2 linked regions of the Homo sapiens genome follow. The protein of the gene in region 1 purifies or fractionates together with the protein of each later gene. This does not show direct contact. Each region holds a gene or a part of one and is shown on either strand. Other genes may lie near its edges. The genes, in order: GNLY and GID4.

Region 1 (7,154 bases):
TGGCATAATTATTTCAAGGTTCATTCATGTTGTAGTATGTATCAGAACTGTGTTCCCTTTTTAGGCTGAATCATATTCCATTGTATATGTAGAGCACATTTTGTTTATGCACTTTTTAAAATTTTAATTTTAATTTTTCTTAGAGACAGGCTCTCACTCTGTCATCCAGGCTGGAGTGCAGTGGCATGACCTTGGCTCACTGCAGCCTCGACTTCCTGGGCTCAAGCAATCCTCTCACCTCAGCCTCCTGAGTAGCTGGGAGTACAGGCACATGCCACCATGCTCAGCTAATTCTTAACTTTTTCTGTAGAGCTGGGGTCTACTATGTTGCTCAGGGTGGCCTCAAACTCCTGGCCTCAAGCCATCTTCCCACCTTGGCCTCCCAAAGTGCTGGGATTACAGGTGTGAGCCACTATGCCCGGCTTGTTTATCCATTTATTTGTCAATGGACACCTGGGCTCTTTCCATCTTTTGGCTACTGTGAATAATGCTTCTATGAACATTGATGTACAAGTATCTGTTTCAATCTACTTTTATTTCTTTTGGGTGTCTACCTAGGAGTGGAATTGCTGGGTTACATGTCTGTGAACATTCTTGTATAAATCTGTGTATGTAGAGGTGTTTTCATTTAGTTTGGGTAAATACATAGAAGTGAAATTGTTGAGTCACAGGGCAGGTGTACGCTCAACTTTCTGAAAAACCGTCAATCCAATTTTCAGTTATTAGTGTTTTATATTCCCACCAACAATGCTTAAGAGTACCAGTTGCTCCACAGACACATCAGCATTTGGGTTTTCTGTCTTTTTAATTTTAGTCATGTTGATGCATCATCTCAGTATAGTTTTAATATAGAATTTCTTGGCCAGACGCAGTGGCTCATGCGTGTAATCCCAACACTTTGGGAGGCTGAGGTGGGTGAATCACTTGAGATCAGCAGTTCAAGACCAGCCTGGACCAAGATGGTGAAACCCCATCTCTACCAAAAATACAAAAATTAGCCAGGTTTGGTGGTGTGTGCCTGTAATCCCAGCTACTCAGGAGGCTGAGGCAGGAGAATTGCTTGAAGCCGGGAGACAGAGGTGGCAGTGAGCCGAGATCACGCCACTGCACTCCAGCCTGGGCGACAGAGTGAGGATCCATCTCAAAAAAAAAAAAAAGGAATTTCTTTGTGATTTACGATGTTGAGCAGGTTTTCAAATGTTTTGGTCATTCTTATCTTCCTTTGCGAATTACCTGTTCAAATATTTTGCCCATTTAAAAAATTGGATTGCTTTATTATTATTATTGCAGTAGCAGTTGATATAATAAGGAGTCCGTAAACAGACCCACAGTCAATTGATATTCAACCAACGTGCCAAAGCAATTCAATGGGAAAAGAAAAATCTTTTCAAGAAATTGATATGAAGAAACAAAACCTCAACCCAGCTCACACTATACATTAATTTGAGATGAGTCATAGACCTAAATGTCAAAGTTAAAATTATAAAAGTTCTAGAAAAAAACATAGAGGTGATTTTTATGATAGCGTAAGTGAAGATTTCCTGAAGAAGATACAGCAGGCAATATTTCTTTTCTTTTCTTTTTTTTGAGACGGAGTCTCGCTCTGTCGCCAGGCTGGAGTGCAGTGGCGCGATCTCGGCTCACTGCAAGCTCCGCAGAAGGCAATATTTCACAGAGGAATTCTTTGTGGGCCTGGGCCTGACTTGCAATGGGCCAGTTCCTGGGGTACCATGGGTGGGAATTGGGTAAAACTTACCCCAGGTTCTTATCACACGGGACCCCAGAGGCCTGGGTGGAGGCTTGTGACTAACTACATGAGCTTTGCCACGTACTCCTCAATACCTCTGACAAGGACTTACTGCAGTGTTTGGTCTCACCAAGTTTCCCACAATAAAGAGACATGAGTCACCTTTCAAGACCCTTTACCCCCAAGAATGTGGTCTTCACACATGAGACCAAGGTCTACAAGTGGTCAGGAGAGAGGGGGTCTGCTCAGATGGGGGAGTAGTGCCTGAGCTGGCCTCAAGAGGGTTAAGTGGCCCTGCACTGAAAACCTGGACACTGAGTTAGGGTAGGGCTGGGGGAAAACTTGGGCTTTGGAGTCGTAGGGTCTGGGTTCAAATCCACAGACCATTCCCTTCCTAGCTGTGTGTTGGTGGGTAATTCACTGGATCTTTCTGAGTCCTGGTTTCCTCATCTGAGGTAAAACGAGTTTGCCGGTTGGTCTGAGAGCTGTTCTAGGCATGGTGGGGAGACCCTGACAGGCAGAGGCAGCCCTGCTCTCAAGCAGTTGATTTACAGCTGGGGAAACAAGACAGCCACAAATGCAATACCTCAAACTCAACTTCTCACCAGAAAGCTCCTTTTCCTAATTTTCACAGCCAGTCCCTCAGCCTCCTGGGCCCCAAATACTAGTAAAACCTTTGCCTCCTCTCTCTTCTTTCTTTCTTGTAATCATATAGGTACAAAGTCCTACCAATTCTTCCTGAAATATGTTTCCTTATCAAAAAGTCCTGCAAAGCCGTGCGTGGTTGCTCATGCCTATAATCCCAGCACTTTGGAGGCTGGGAGGATCGCTTGAGTCCAGGAGTTCGAGACCAGCCTGGACAACATATGGAGACCCATCTCTACCAAAAATTTTAAAATCAGCAGGGGTGGTAGTGGCAAGCACCTGTGGTCTCATCTACTTGGGAGGCTGAGGTGGGGGGATTGTTGGAGCCTGGGCGGTTGAGGCTGCAGTGATCTGTGATTGCACCACTGCACTCTAGCCTGAGGTACAGAGCAAGAACTTGTATCAGAAAAAAAAAAAAAAAGTCCTGCGGTAGCTGACACTGCCATTGCCTATACGATTCCCATTCCCTCATCCTCCCTAGCAGGATATCAATTTTGTTCGAAGTGTCAATGAAGGCCAGGTGCGGTGGCTGATGCCTGTAATCCTAACACTTTGGGAGGCCGAGGCAGGCGGATCACCTGAGGTCAGGAGTTCAAGACCAGCCTGGCCAACATGGTGAAACCCTGTCTCTACTAAAAACACACAAATTAGCAGGGCATGGTGGCGTGCACCTGTAATCCCAGCTACTCAGGAGGCTGAGACAGGAGAATCACTTGAACCCGGAGGTGGAGGTTGCAATCAGCCAAGATCACACCACTGCACTTCAGCTTGGGTGACAAGAGTGAAACTCTGTCTCAAAAAAGAAAAACAAAACAAAAACAAACAACAACAACAAAAAGCAAAGTGTCAGTGAAGGTCCAGCAAAAGACTCCCTTCCTATTGCCCTTTGCAGCCAGGGTCATCATGTGACACAGTTCAGATCAATGAGATGGAGGCTGAGGGTCCCTGGGAAAGATGTTTTTCCTATACAGGTACCACCTCTTTCAGCTTCACTCTTTCCATTTTCCACGTGAACAGGCCTTGTAGCCTGGAGGAGCTACAGCTGCCTTTTTGAGATGCTGAGGCACCCTGTCTGAAGAAGGCCCTCACATCACTCAACTTGACTACTGGGTGAGCCCTTGGAGAGGCTTCCCAGCCTCTGCTCTTCAAGCCGAAGTACCACAGGGGACACGAGTCCCAGAGTTACAGGACCCCAGCTATGGTTCATGTGTAAAGGGAACCATTAGGCAACCAGGGGAAATGATGAAGAAGATCTACATTTACAAATGTGGAAAGATGTTCGTGGTATATTGTTAAATTAAAAAGCTGTTTAAAAATAGTTTTTGGGTCAAGTGAGATGACTCACTTATACTTTTAGTATAAGTATGTCCCATGCAATATCTGGAACGTACTTGTACTAAGGGGTTTCTCCCTCCATCGGCACATCCCAGGCATCCTGGCAGCTGCTGGCCTCCAGCAACCCCACATTCTAGTTGTGTGGGAGTGGGGTGTGGCATGGACCCTGTGGGCTACCACTGCCCTGAGCTGCTTCTTCACACACTGGTATTTGTATCTGTGGTAAACCCAGTGACACGGGGGAGATGACATACAAAAAGGGCAGGACCTGAGAAAGATTAAGCTGCAGGCTCCCTGCCCATAAAACAGGGTGTGAAAGGCATCTCAGCGGCTGCCCCACCATGGCTACCTGGGCCCTCCTGCTCCTTGCAGCCATGCTCCTGGGCAACCCAGGTAAGGCCTTCCCCTCGGGATCGATCCTGATGGCCCACCCAGCCTCGCACTCTCAGGCTGGCTGAACCTGGAGCTTGGACTCTGTGGGCACCCAGGTGCCCCTGCCTCCCCCCGGCCTTCTCCCCCGTCATGGAGGCCTGGCCTCCCCTCAGAGCCAGGCTTAGTCCAGTGTGCTGCCCAGCCTGTCACTGGCCTGGCCAAGGAGGAGAGACAGGCCAGGGATTCTGGTCCTAACTCTACTGGCCACACTGTGTGGCCTGAGACCCCCCTTTCCCTCCCAAGCCCCTGCCTCCGCATCTGCGTGGTGAAGGCCATTGGCCCTCATCGGTGGATCTGCGTTTCCTCGGGCCTACACTGTCTAGGATTGTGCGGGGCTGGTGAGAGAACAAGATCTCTTCTGTGTTCAAGGCAGACTTCCTGCCCCCTGCACCCTGCTCTCTCCCAGGCCTTGAGGTCAGTGTGAGCCCCAAGGGCAAGAACACTTCTGGAAGGGAGAGTGGATTTGGCTGGGCCATCTGGATGGAAGGTAAAAAAAGAAAATCCCTTGAAAGGAGATTGAGGGAAGTTTCTAGACAAACCGACCCCCAAATCTGTGTTGCTGGGGGAACAGAGGAGAAGAGAGAGTCTCGCCCTCCTGGCTTTCTAGAAGGAACGTGAGAACACGTGTTTGTGCTGAGAGTGGGTCAGAGCGGCTCCAGGGCAAAGCATGTGGACAGGTATCCTGGCCCCCTGCAAGGCCCAGCTCCTGTCCTAGGCCCTGGTCACCTCCTGGACTCCCACCAGCCAGGAGAACGGGCTTTCCCTCTCCTTCCGCCTGCGGAGGGGAAGCTGAAGTCTGGTCTTCCTCAGGTCTGGTCTTCTCTCGTCTGAGCCCTGAGTACTACGACCTGGCAAGAGCCCACCTGCGTGATGAGGAGAAATCCTGCCCGTGCCTGGCCCAGGAGGGCCCCCAGGTACGTGTTGGCTCTCTGCTCACCTGCCACAGTCCCTCTCCTTTCCCTCCTCCCTGGTGGCTCCTGGGGTGAGGTCTGGAGCTCTCTAATGGTCAGGAGGTGGGAGTGGAGGCTGGGCTGTTTCTGACGATGCTGGTTTTGTTGAATTCATGTCTGGCCAGGAGGGCTACAGGTATCTGGCAGACTCCTCCAGGAGGATCCTCTGGGGTCTCACCCTCCAAGGAGCCTGGGGCTGCAGAACCCAAATAGGCAGACTCCCCTGGGAGTTCCTCAATAGGAGAGGGGCAAGTGCAGGGCTGGGAAAGTACTGGGGGTGTGGGAGGCTGTTTCTGGGGTGTCTCAGAGCCTCTAAGACAAGCAAAAGGGTGGGCAGGGGCCAGGCAGCCAGTTCAGGCCTTCAGTGTATCCACGCTCTGGGAAGAGATCACGGACATTCCTGCCGGCCTCAGAAACACAAAGGGCCCCTTTCCTGGGCACTTTCACGCGCTCCCAGAGTGTCTGAGAGACCATCATAAGGGCTTTCTTTCCTGACAGGGTGACCTGTTGACCAAAACACAGGAGCTGGGCCGTGACTACAGGACCTGTCTGACGATAGTCCAAAAACTGAAGAAGATGGTGGATAAGCCCACCCAGGTGAGGCCAAGGGGCTACAGAGCCTCCTGTCTGCTGCTCAATGGAGGGGCCAGCCTGTGACCAGGTCGGGGATCGGGGAGCCCGGGGGCACCTTGCACAGTGATCCTGGGGGAGGGCTTCCTAGAAGGGAATCTGTGAGTCCCCGTGTGTCTGTGGATGAATTTCAGAGAACTTGTGAAATTGTGACTCTCTGGAACTGTGTAAGTCAGACGGCAGAGTATACATGGTTTTCATCATGTATCCTCAAAGAGGGCTTGTCCCAGAGAAGTTAGGAATCTTCCCCTAAAGCCCTAACATTTGTGTCCAAGGCAGAGTTTGAGAAGCTAGTTCCCCAAGAGGCCTGGGTCAGGACTGATAAATCCCAGATCTGCTACTTCCAAGCTGCATGGCCTTGGGCAAGTCACTTCCACTTTCTGAGCCTCTGTTATCTTATCTTTGAAATGTGATGGATAATAGTCCCTATCTTGCAAGTTGTCAAACCCTTTTTTTTTTTTTTTCCTTGAGATAGGATCTTACTCTGAGACCCAGGCTGGAGTGCACTGGTGTGATCTTGGCTCACTGCAACCTCTGCCTCCCTGGCCCAAGCAATTCTCCTGTCTAAGCCTCCTGAGTACCTGGGGCTCCAGGTGTGCGCCACCATGCCCAGCTAATTTTTGTACTTTTGTAGAAACAGGGTCTCACTGTGTTGCCCAGGCTGGTCTCCAACTTCTGAGCTGAAGCAATCCACCTGCCTTGGCCTCCCAAAGTGTGGGATTACAGGCATGAGCCACTGCACCTGGCTGCTGAAGCTTTTTAAAAGAGCTGAGGGCTGGGATGTACTTAGCTCCACGTCCAGCACTGAGTAAATGCTTAACGAATGACTGTGTTACTACCAAGAATTATTGTTTCACTCTCCCTCCTTCCCTCTCCTCTGCTGCCCCAAACTACTCAGCATCCTGGCACTGCAGGCTCGCACTTAGCCCTGGATACCCAGATTCATCCTCCTCCCCTGGGATGGCATAGAAGAGACTTTAAAACCAAATGAGCCAAGACTCCAAGCTCTGACCACACCTCCCACCCCACCAGTCTTCTCTATGCACCCCCTCTATCTGGAGCCCCCAGCCAGGTCCTGGACCCAGGTAGCTACATGGCAGAGCATTTAATGTGTGCCTGGCAGCCATGGGCACCATTCTCCACACAGAAGGCAGGGGACAGGTGCACAAGGCGCTGAGACCCCAGCAGGGCTAACTGTCCTTGTCTCAGGAGCCCTACCTGGCCAGTCTTGGGCCAGGCCTTGGGGACTGGGAGTAGGGGCTGAGCCCCGTCTGTACAGTCTCTGGCCCCATGGGCACCAGGTGCCAGCTCCTCGCACCCAGTACTCCCATTGCTAGGGCTGCTGGAACCTGCAGGGTGGCAGAGCTGGGCAGGACTCACCCTATAACCATGTCCACTGTGGTGCTGCTGCTGCA
Region 2 (5,653 bases), on another chromosome or scaffold:
CGGTGGGCCGAGATTGCACCACTGCACTCCAGCCTGGGCGACAGAGTGAGACTGCATCTCAAAAAAAAAGTGTACAAGTCAGTGATCTTTCCTATATTAATAGAGTTGTCTAACTATCAAGTTTAGAACATTTTCATCACCATAAGAGGAAACCCCATACCCTTAGCCATTATCCCAAACTCCTCATCCCCTCTGAGCCCTGGGCAACCACTAGTCTTTCTCTTATGTATGTATAGATTTGCCTATTCTGGGTATTTTATATAAATGGAATCTACAAAATACGGCCCTTGCTTCTGGCTTTTTTCACTTAGCATAATGCTTTGAAGGTTCATTCATGTTGTACCATGTATCAGAACTTCTTTTTTATTGCCAATTAATTTTCCATTACAGGTATATACAACTTTTTTTTTGAAACAAAGTCTCGCTCTTGTCCCCCAGGCTGGAGTTCAGTGGCACGATCTCGGCTCACTGCAACCTCCGCCTCCCAGGTTCAAGCAATTCTCCTGCCTCAGCCTCCCGAGTAGCTAGGATTACAGGCGCCTGCCACCACGTCTGGCTAAGTTTTGTATTTTTAGTAGAGACGGGGTTTTGCCATGTTGGCCAGGCCTGTCTCGAACTCCTGACCTCAGGTGTTCCACCCGCCTCGGCCTCCCAAAGTGCTGGGATTATAGGTGTGAGCCACCGTGCCCGGCCGGTATATACCACATTTTATTTATCCATTCATTATTTAGTGGACACTTAGATTGCTTCCATTGTTTAGCTCTTGTGAATAATGCTGCTGTGAACATGGGTATATCTGAGTTCCTGCTTTCAATTCCTTGGACATATACCTAGGAGTGAAATTGCTAGGTCATACGGTATTGCTATATTTAACTTTATGAGGAACTGCCAAACTGTTTCCCACAGCAGCTGCACCATTTTGCATTCCTACCGGCATGTATGAGGGTTCCAGTTTCTCCACATCCTCCCTGGCACTTGTTATCATGTCTCTATAATTATAGCTACCCTAGTGGATGTGAAGCAGTATTTCATTGTAGTTCTAATTTGCATATTTTTGATGGCTAATGCATATTTCTTTCCTGATAATTTGTTTTTGGTAAGAAATAAGCCGCTTTTTCCTACGTTCTTCCACACTCCTGTATGAAACAAGTAGGGGAGAGCCAACTTGCTAGACATTGACTCTAAATGTGCCCGAGGTTGTCATCCCAGCATGTAGATTGTCTGCCCCTATTTCTCCTCCCTCTGCATGACTCCCTGGATCACCTGCCAACAGGGGAGGCAAACACCTCAGATATCACTAATGTTTTCCAAGCCTAATACCGTACCTAGGAAAGTGAGAAAATTTAAATGAAAGGTAAAATACAGTTTAAGGCAGTAGTGAAATGAATTTTTCTACGCTCTCTTTAGATACCATGAGAATCAGTTTATGCCTATGCTAGCCATAAAGTTCTTAGGATATGAGAGCCTGGCATTACATGCTACAGCAGGAGAGGTCAGAGCAGCCGGTGAGGTTAGGGCTTGGGCGTGGGTCTCCATCTTCTCCCACAGCTTATTGAGGTCTCCTTTTTATAAAACATACCATAGTTAACTTCATGATTAGAGCAGAATGAAAAAAAACATTCATCTAGTGCATGGTTCAGGAGGATTAACCAAAAAAAGAAAGAATGAATGAAATCAAACTAGGTTCAACTTGAGAAATAGAAAATGAATGTGCATTTCAGTCCAAGTATGTGACTTGTTGGGTGCTCTGCTTTTTGAGGGGTTACTAATGTCCTTTGCTCAGGGTGCATTAGATGACTACCTCCCGTTTCTGTCTCCTCCCCCTTGCAGGTATCAGTCCCTCAATCTAACCCATGTTCCTGAACACAGTGCACCCATCTATGAATTCCGGTGACAACGGTTCAGAACAGCAACCAAATAAAACTGAACTTGGCAAAAAAGAACTTTGCCGAGAAAATTGTGTACCTGCCAGAACCAGGAGAAGTGTGTTCCTGTTTCTTCACGAGCAGACTCGCATCACAAAGCATGAATGTTAACCCACAGAATCCAAGGAGCATGGCTGGCCCGTGGGGCAGGTGGAGGGAGCAGTCTTCGTTCTTCCTCCCCTCAGTGGCAGTTTGGTCTTCACCTGTTTTTAAGCTACCTTAAACGCACTTTTCCTTCCTGCACAGCTAACTTCTACATCACTGAAATGCCCATTCCTTCCTCCGTCCCACCTCCAGCCGAATAGAAGGTCTGCTCCCGGATCACCCTCAGCCTTGGTGCTCAGTGGTCCCGAGGCCCTAGACCCCCACCCCCCGCCAGTTGCTTTGTCTGGTAGCTCAAGAGAAGGCAGAGCCCCAGCACCTCTGTGCCCCCCAGAGCTCTGTGCAGGGAGTTGGCCAGCTGCCGCATCATCGGCCACCAAGGGCACAAGAGGCGGAGGCTCCAGTCCCTGCTGGGCTGCCTCAGTCTTCAGTGCTGATTGTGTCACGGGTCAGCGTGCGCTGCTGAGCCCTGTACTGTTAACAGTGCAAAGCTAGTGAGTAGCTGTCAGGTTCCCTGGGCCTGCCATCAGGGATCACTAAATTTAAGGCTTCCAGATCCCTGGCAGGAACAGATTCCAGTCCTGCTTACTCAGTACATTTGCTCCAAACTTTTCAACTTGAGGGCAATACTAAACTTAAAAATAAGAGTTTTTTTATTACAAAATTATTTTTATGGTCCCTTTAACGAGGACCCTATGGCAAATGCACAATTATTCAGAATTACATTTTATCGTTTTCACATTGAAAACAGCAAATGTTGACTTAGTAATTTTTATATCGATATCTATATGTATATGTATATTTAATCAACCAGCAGTTTTGAAACTAGTCATCCTGGTACAAAAGTTTTGCAGCATTGCCTAAATTATAGTGCTCAACACAAGAACTGTTTTTGGGGCCAGTTTAGCATTTGTGCCGCCTCCTTTTGCTACTCAAAACAGCAATGCTTGGCGGCAGCCTTCCATGAGGCAGAAGGGGTCGTCGTTCTCTGAAAACAGTGACTCTGAAATGTTGGGACAGGGGAAGGGGTGGGAAACATGAACATGCTCAAATAACTCGAGGCTCACGTGCCAAAGTGTGTGTGTGTGTGTGTGTGTGTGTGTGTGTGTATGATGTTTTGTTTTTTTAAATGTTTTAAAAGCTTAATAGGTTGGCATCAGTTGTAGCCCACAAACATGGCTAGGGCTTTGGGGATTTGGCATTTTTCTGGTGGTTTACAAGACTTACTCCGAATACAAGAGGAAAAGCTTTAAAAACAAGATTGCATCATAACCCCCAGGAGCAAAGCAACCTGGAGGCTGCATATCCATGGGCGGGCAGCATAAGAGAATGTGAAGCCCTTCAGTGAGACGAGACGAGCAATGGGAAACCTTTTCTGTTCTTAAGAAGTGACTTTAATTTTATTGACATATGTACTGTATGTTACTGAGATTGAATGTTAGGGGAAGCCTTAAGGTAGAGGTATTTGGGAAAGTAGCCAGTGGGCACTTGTGATATCTAAAATCTGTTATCCCAGGACTGTGTACAGAGGGGCAACCTACCCATTCAGGAAGGTCAGGGCTTTGGAACCCTAAAAAGTTGGCCCGATGACTTAAAGGGAAAAATAATTCATTCCCAGAGATGAGTCAGAACAGTCTCCTCAATCCTGAAATTCAACAAGGCATCAGAAGGGCTGGCTGTGGTCAAGCCCAGCTGCTGTCATGTGAGGAGATGCTCACTGTGGTCTTGTTGAGCTGATGGCCTTGGTTGAGCTGATGGACAAGTGAAGGAGGCCATGGGGCTGTGCTGTCCTTCCTGCCGTACGTGCCATTCCACTCTCTTCAGCTCTCCCCTCAACAGCATGCGAGCCCATACCTTCTGCATTTTTCCAGGCCTGTGAGGGATATAGGCCTCCCCTTGGAGCACTGAGTCCGGAGGTCATCCCTGAGCTCATCCACGGCTCATGCTGTGGCTCCGAGTAGTGGTTTGAGTGGGCAGGAAGGGCCATTTGCAAACACTGCTGTGTTCTAGACAAACAACCCAAGTCCTATGGCAGGATTTCTTCCTTCCTTCCTTTTTTACCCAGGTGATGAAGTGCACCCATTGTACTGGGAAGAATGAAGAGGTGATACCTTTACTAGATCCTTCAGACACATCTATGAGAAGATTTGTTCATTTAAAAGTCTGCCCACTGAGGATAGGGAAAGGATTAAGGATTTTTCCACCTCCTCTTAGTAACTCCTGAATTACCAACATCAACTTCTTTCTCTCCGTTCCTGAAGGAACTTTGGGGAATCATCTTCATCCGTAGTTACGCTTTCCTGAACCTTCTCAGTGGTTTACATGCCTCTGAAACTATGTGCAATATTTTTGGTTGACACTTGTATCCATCCTTAAGAAATTAGTGCAGATTGCAGATGTTCTGTCTTCCATCCCAAACAAGCCTGCCATGAGGTAGGATCCTAGGGGTTTGGCTGTTCTTACTCCACTGCTCAGAAAGCTTCCATTCTGCTGTCCTCAGCCTCGACCCTCTTCTGTGCTGGACTTCCACCCACCCACCCTTTTCAAGTTTAGATAGTGTTTCAGCTGCTGTCCCAAAGTAACAAAACAATACCTACTGTTAAGTAGGAAGTCAATCTGTGTGCTGGTTTTGTTGGTTATGTGGAAATCACAAACTCCAGAGGAGCAAAGGGGTTTTTCAATGTCTTTTGCTTTCAGAAACAGAGAATATAATATTCTCACTAAGGCCTTGAATTGATTTTTTTCTCATAAAATAGTCTGATAAGCTAATTTTTAAAAAGAAATGCCATTAACTGTGTTGTATCGTGGTTTAAAATTACTAACAAGTTGTGGGAAAGAAAAATAATATTTGATTTTGAATCTTAAATGTTTTTAAAAATTAGACTTGAATGGGCACAAAGTATAAATATTTTGTTTCTTTATGGAGGACATGTGGAAGGAGTTTGAGGGTTTGGGATGGGAGAAGTATTTTGCAGAGCTATCAATGTCCAAATAATTTAAAAAAAAAAATAAAGGTATTTAAGCAGTGAGTTTGTCCTATTTGTAAACCAAAGCAGCTCCATTAGAGGAAAGCAGTCCTCTCTGGGCCTGTGGCTGTGGAGCTCTCCAGGGCCAGCCGGAGACCTCTGTGTGCCAGGGCAAACCGAGGGCCCCTCTGGGCAACTGTTGCAGTGGTCTGCTTGCTCCTTTTTCATTCTGAATGTTTTCAGCTGCTCAGCACTTCTATTCAAGCTCCATTTTGTTAATTTCTGTATTTCTTCAGAAATGTGGAAGCATTTTTTTTTTCCATATGTGAAGGGTTTATATTTCTATTTAACACAGAGAAAATGTGCAGGCAGAGGTATCTGTCCAAAGCCTGCTTTGTGTTCTGGTGTGGGGACAGGCAATGCTGTTGGGCTGCTCTCGACACTGTGACTGTGGTCCTCAGAGAAGATGCCTAAGTCTCAAAGCACAGGCACTTGGACCCCCAAATAGCAGGATCCCTAAATCAGCCATTACAGTTTATTCTGACAAACCATTCTGTTACGTTTCAGGTCCCACCTCCCTAGGAGGCTTGAAGGAACATGACTGGAAACATGGGAGATTTTGAGGAAACATATAAAGTGTTGAGGTCTAAATTTTAAGCA

Evidence for each region.
Region 2: the proteins of GNLY (region 1) and GID4 purify together in Homo sapiens (co-immunoprecipitation; 2 studies listed by BioGRID and IntAct, with this or other methods). This does not show direct contact.

What each region holds. Positions count from the first base shown.
Region 1 is NC_000002.12:85,690,351-85,697,504, forward strand, and holds the start of GNLY (granulysin isoform 2 precursor), read left to right. Parts: upstream 1-4,007; 5' UTR 4,008-4,068; coding exon 4,069-4,120; intron 4,121-4,402; exon of another isoform or gene 4,403-4,565; coding exon of another isoform or gene 4,566-4,646; intron 4,647-4,969; coding exon 4,970-5,073; intron 5,074-5,607; coding exon 5,608-5,706; intron 5,707-6,637; coding exon of another isoform or gene 6,638-6,730; exon of another isoform or gene 6,731-7,034; intron 7,035-7,154.
Region 2 is NC_000017.11:18,063,350-18,069,002, forward strand, and holds the end of GID4 (glucose-induced degradation protein 4 homolog), read left to right. Parts: intron 1-1,830; coding exon 1,831-1,894; 3' UTR 1,895-5,056; downstream 5,057-5,653.